Regions from separate parts of the Homo sapiens genome. Here region 2 is linked to region 1. The links come from fine-mapping of genetic effects on gene expression. A gene starts in region 1. The other region holds a variant in brackets. All regions are shown on one strand. Distances are between the middles of the regions. Region 1 holds the start of LINC01303 (long intergenic non-protein coding RNA 1303). Region 2 overlaps LINC01303 (long intergenic non-protein coding RNA 1303).

The links.
Region 2: its variant is fine-mapped to the expression of LINC01303 in whole blood (TOPMed, PIP 0.96).

What each region holds. Positions count from the first base shown.
Region 1 is chr14:61,569,127-61,572,040 of GRCh38, reverse strand. It overlaps LINC01303 (long intergenic non-protein coding RNA 1303), which reads left to right and starts at 1,388. Exons shown (of 5, transcript NR_110416.1): 1 at 1,388-1,555; 2 at 2,364-2,497. It overlaps LINC03033 (long intergenic non-protein coding RNA 3033), which reads right to left and starts at 1,501. Exons shown (of 3, transcript NR_039985.1): 1 at 1,281-1,501. RefSeq lists a silencer at 2,211-2,403 and an enhancer at 2,795-2,914.
Region 2 is chr14:61,564,117-61,567,030 of GRCh38, reverse strand. It overlaps LINC01303 (long intergenic non-protein coding RNA 1303), which reads left to right. Exons shown (of 5, transcript NR_110416.1): 3 at 1,643-1,711; 4 at 1,790-2,914. Among named protein-coding and RNA genes, the nearest start is that of LINC03033, 5.0 kb to the left of the region's middle. The variant T/G (reference allele first, on the strand shown) is at 1,624.

The sequences.
Region 1 (2,914 bases):
AGTCCTAACCCTTTCTCAGCCTGCCTAAGAGCTCGTTGGTTTCAGAAGGATGAGCCAAGGACTGCTACTTAGAGACTACTGTCTAGGTCAACCCAACTGGCATAAGTAAAGCACCTACTGTTTATAGTAGGAGGCTGCAAGATAACAGGAGATGCAGACTATTGAAGGCTACTGATCTATCTGTGTAGACAGGCAAGAATAAAACAACTGGAGAAGAAATCCAGGATTACACAAAAAGAAGAGCGTGATGGTATGGTAGACTACTCCAGAACAGTGAATTTCCCCTGCATTAAGGATGAGATCCCTATGAATTGGGATCATTCAGGAAGTCTTCTTGGAGAAGAAAAGTTTGAGCATATGGGGAAAAAAAGTTGGATTGGCAAAGAGCTGAGCTGTCAGTAGCTGGGTCCTTAGTAAGTAGGCTGCATGGAGCTGGGAGTTATGCTAAAGGAGTTGTAATTTGGGATGCCTCTAATTAACCATTTTGGGAAAAATATAATAAATCCCTTTGTAGCATCTATAATAAACTGCCCAATATCTATGTGGTGGGGAAAAAGTTTTATTCTACGTTTCACGTGGATGGTGATAACACTAGGTAATCTCAGCATCTTTCTTATTCTCTTGCTAATCCAGGATTCTAAGTAATAATCACTTTGTTCTACAACCTGAATCTAGCCCTTGTACTGTGCAGTTTTTTTCTACACTTATTTTTCCTGTTGTCTGAATCAATCTCCATGGAAGCATAAGTTTTACTGAGTTTCAACCAGCTGTGTCCACCGAGGTAAAGATGGTAAAAATAAAAGGCACAGGGCATATATACCACAGCAGCAGTTACTTCCCACAAGGAACCAGAGATTGGAAGTGAAGCTAAAACATTTTCAGCTACGATAGCATCTCTTTCAAGGTGAGCCATTTCCCCAGGGAGAGTTTCCAGCTCTTAGCAAAGGCAGAACAATAAAACATCAAGGATGTCTTTCTAAGGCTGCAAACAGAATAGCCAATACCTTGAAGCTGATCTGCTTCAGAGTCCTTTAAAAGCCAGGACAGCAACAAAGTGCCCACATTACATTTTCTACAAGCTTGCTAAGCATCTCTTTTCCTAAACCACAAAACCCGAGACATTTCTACAGAACAGGCAGAAAGGGAAGTCCTGGGAGATCAGGGCCCTGTCTCAGCAGGCATCACTCCAGCCTGTCTTTTCCCGAGTGGTTTTCTGCACTTCTCTTCCATCTTTTCCCCTCTGTCCCACACTGGAAGTCACTAGTCTGTGCCCTCCTTACCTCCCATGGTTTCTGCACCTTCATTTCCAAAGGCAAGTGAAAACAGTGCCAGGCTGCGCACATGGGTTACTCCAGGGACTTCTCTTCCCGTTTCCCCTAAAGCATTTGACAGTTAGATCTTGGAACTGAGTCCAGCAGCACTGAGGTCAGAGAGATGGCTAAAGCTAAAAGCAAACTGGATGCTGTTCAGGAGGTTCTCCTTTGTCATTTTTATCTCCAAATAGAAGACCTCTGTTTTCCCAGAAGATTAAATAGTAGAAAAGAAGTAGCCCAAGGTGGGTGACTCTGCAAACAGGTGGGTGAGGTCTCTAGTTGAGTGAGGGGGTGTCTGTGGGTTGTGGGTTCTTCTTATGAGCAGAGCTTGGAGGAATTTGTTCTATTTGTTGTGGTTTTCCCAGGGGGAAGTCGGGGGTGGCTGGGACTCTAATGATCATTATCAGAAGACTTTGGATTAGGCCTCTGAAACTTTAAGATGTGGATCCTCTCGCAATCATGTTAAAATGCAGATCTCCTTTCAATAGGTCTGGGACAGAGCCTGGCTTTTCTATAAAGCTTCTGGTGATGGGATGTCGCTGGTTCTCAGCCACAATTTGAGTAGCAAGAGGTTAGCTTTTCTACTTACTGCCTTCATATCCCCAGTTGGGCTATGTCGTTTTATCAAAACAATGTGGTAAGAGTGAGCGCCAATTACTAGCCTGTTGAATCATCCATTGTTAGAGCTGTTTCTTTGAGGTACATTTAAGAGGCCCCTCCCTGTGGTTCCCCATTGCACAAGAAGCCCATTTGCCAGGCAATACCTTGGGCAAGCAAGCCACTGTGCAAAATTGCATTGGCTCTTCCTGCTGCCAGCCAGGCGGCTGCTGGTTGACGTTGGAGTTGTACAGTTTATGTGATAGTGATGACAGCGCTGGCTCTGAAGGGTACTGAAGATTTTGAAGGGGTACTTCGCTGCAGCAGCTTCACCTCTCACTTTTGTTTACCCACCCCCGAGGCTTGTGGGAGAGAAGGATCAGGCAGAGCTCTGCACGTGCCATGCCAGGGGTGGAGGAATTATATTTTTATTTTTTGCTTTCTCTGCTACAGGACATACCATGCCTTTTACAGATATTTATAGGACAATTTCCCTCCTGAGAGTGCCCAAGCATGGGGGATGGTGAGGAAGATGACTGAAGGAGAAAGCAGGAAAAGGGGGTGTCTGCATGTATGAGGATTGGAAGGTGGGGAAAACCCTTCGTGTTTGGTTCAGCCTTCAAGAAAGAGGAGGGGTTGACTAGATTACAGATGTTAAACCAGGGGTCTGTGGTTCAAACCAGCAACTCTCTGCCCTTGTAAGCTGTATCTGGCTGGTGTGTTAATTTGTCTAGGGTAAGAGCCCCTAGGTTTCAACAGATTGTCCTAGAGTCAATGATACACAAAAGGTTAATCAGCCTCATTTCCAATCAGGATCATCTGCAAGTCCCTCCCAGAGCAGATATTTGGAGCACTAGGCTTCTAGAAGCAGCAGACATCAAGTTCGGGCCATGGGATTAGGGTGGACAGGGCAGCCACTTGGAATCATTTTCTACCAGAGGCAGAAGAGGCTCAGCTAGCAACAGCCCCATTTTACAGAGCAGAAGCCGAGCTGCAGTCAATTC
Region 2 (2,914 bases), 5.0 kb after region 1:
GTGGGATACAGAATGGGAGATTCATCTGTTTCCTGATCTCAAAGAGCTTAGAATTTATCCAATGTCCAAACTTGCCAGTGCATCAGAATCATCTATAAAGATTTAGAAAAATATAGCCAATTGATCTTCACCCCAGACTGACTGAATCAGAATGTTTCAGGGTAAGTTCCAGGAAGCCATATTATTAAAATTCTCCTCCAGGTAATTTTGTTGAGCAGTCAGAATCTCTGATCCCTAGAGGAATGCTGAAGTGGAATTTCTCTAGTGACCTTTCCTCTACATAGTTGAACAGACTCAGAGTCTGGCTCCTGACCATAAGACAGAGAAATCACCAGAGAAGACAGGGCAACCGCAGTCCAACTGAGCTGTAAGCCTGGGACCTGCTCACTCACCTTCAAGAAAGCAGGAGGGGCAGGAGGGATGGGTAAATGTAAGGAAAGAGAAGAATGTACTGGGATGGCGGGGTGGGTTGTACATGCCTAGAGTGGAAGATGCCTCTCTATCTAAATTTTATAAATTGTCCATTTAGAAAGCAGAAGACCAGCTCTCTGGCTTGTTGAAACAAACACTCCTTCTTTCTCAGCCACATCTTGATTACTATGGTCAAGTAGGGATGATTGTGCTGGCCAATTTCAAATGGTAGCCCTGATGAATTATAACAAATAATCTCCACGTGCTTTATACACATGCCCATGTCCCCACCAATTAAGTCTGAGTACTAGGGCAAATTGAAGCAAAGGGTGGTGGGGGGTGATCCTGTTAGCTTGCTGTCCTCAGAAATAGCCTCTCCAAGGTACTCTAAAAAGCAGCGGTTCTGTTGGATCATGCCTGGAAAACAGGTCTCCTTGGAGTTTGAGGGGATTAAAATTTTAGTTCCAGTTAACTTTCTGTCTCTTGGTGAAGACTGTTCCCAGAAATCTAATTGTGAAGTATTTATTTGTTGACAGCTAATGATGAGTCAGCTACTGTGATGCCTTAAACATGAATATGTTTCCAATCTTCCTGGAAAGATGAGATACAGTTATACGTAAAAGTGAATAAACACAAGACTTATTTCCAGACAACACTAGAAGAGATGGTTTTGTGGGTATCTGAAGTTCTATATCCTGAAAGCTTATCTGAGCAGTATGTATTTGAGAGCAAAATACTCTGGGTGCCATATAGACATGTAAGGCATCATCTTTGTCCTCAGGAAGCTTACAATCTGATAGAAAAGACAGGACATATAAGTATATAATATAAAGAAAACAGTATAGGCTAGGCCAGGCGCAGTGGCTCCTGCCTGTAATCCAGCACTTTGGGAGGTTGAGGTGGTGGATCACTTGAGGTTAGGAGTTCAAGACCAGCCTGGCCAACATGGCAAAACCCTGTCTCTACCAAAATACAAAAATTAGCCAGATGTGGTGGCATGTGCCTGTAGTCCCAGCTACTCAGGAGGCTAAGGTGGGAGAATCTCTTGAACCCAGGAGGCAGAGGTTGCAGTGAGCCAAGATCATGCCACTCCAACCACCCTGGGTGACAGGGTAAGACCCTGTCAAAAAAAAAAAAAAAAAAATAGCATAGGCTGGGATAAGTGAGTGATTCAGTGTTAGCTTTAGTGTCAATAGAACTTGCACTGAAATA[T/G]TCAACTTTTTTCCCACAGCCCTGGACAACTTTCAGGAAGACAGTTCTGGTCTGTAGCAATTAACACATGGTCATCCTCAGAAAAAGGGTAAGGAGGATGCCACTTGACCTAACAGAATCTTATACATGCCAATAATGTGAAGGCTTGATGGGTGTTTGTACTTAGTCCTCTCAATTATTTCCCAGAGATACCCATAACTTAAAATGCAGGAACCAAGAGATTTGAGCCTAGACATTTGGATGAAAAGCGATTTCCACCTGGAGAAAGTCACTGCCCTTCTGTGCAGAGGTAGGTGCCCTGATACTTGCCTGACAGCTGGAAAGCGTGGCTCAGAAGAGGTAGGTGGGAGAAGAGGCCACATAGTATCTCCCTGGGCCTCCTGGTGAAAAACTTGTGTGTGATTTTTCAGGCCTGACCACAAACTTGGGGAAAGCTGACCCCTACCCCAGACTTGGGGCACAGCCCATGCGTGGCAGTCTCTGGAGGGAGCTCTCAAGGTCTCAGGTCTCTCTGGCTGGTCGTAGTCATCACATATTTGCATTCCTAGCCCCTGAGCCTTCATTCCTGGGTTTATCAGAAGCCTTGGGGAGAGGTGTTCTTTAGGCGCCTCTGCTGAGGCCTTCTTTGGGTGGGGCAGGGAAGGGAGAGAAATCTTGAAGCCGCTTTTCCCCACAATGACTCAGAATCTAGTACTTCCACTCCTAGCCTTCCCCCTCCCTTGCTCTCGGCCCCAGAGTCCATAAAACTTCCAGAGCCTTTTGTTCAGGGCTCTGTCAGCAGTGAGACCACCCCAACCCGACATTCCTGCTGATCTACTTGACCCTGGGCCCCTGTGTGTTCCATGGGGGAAATGGAACAGGGAGAGTCCACGCTTTCTCTGGTTTCAGATACTTGCTTATACCATTGCAGGACATGACTGAAAGCTTGACTCTTTTGTTTTGGGCTTGTTGCCTTAATTGACTATTGTGACACCTGGCAGCTCAGCGCTCCCTCTCCCAGTTCAACTGAGCTCCTGACAGAGGGACTCCACCTTCAACTTGCCAGGGACAGGCACTCAAAGGACGGGCTTCATTTCTGTTGAAGGCTCTGGCTTCTCCTAATATGTTTCTAATTCATTTCTAGATTCAGATCTCTCTCTACCTCTCCATATCACACATTCACAAACAATAACTGCCTGAGGACCAGGAGAAGCACAGGGCCTGCCTCGTTATTCCTCCCCTGCATGCTGACTCTTCCACTGGGGCTGGGCAGAGTCAGCACATGCAGGAGGGGAATCATGAGCCAGGCCCT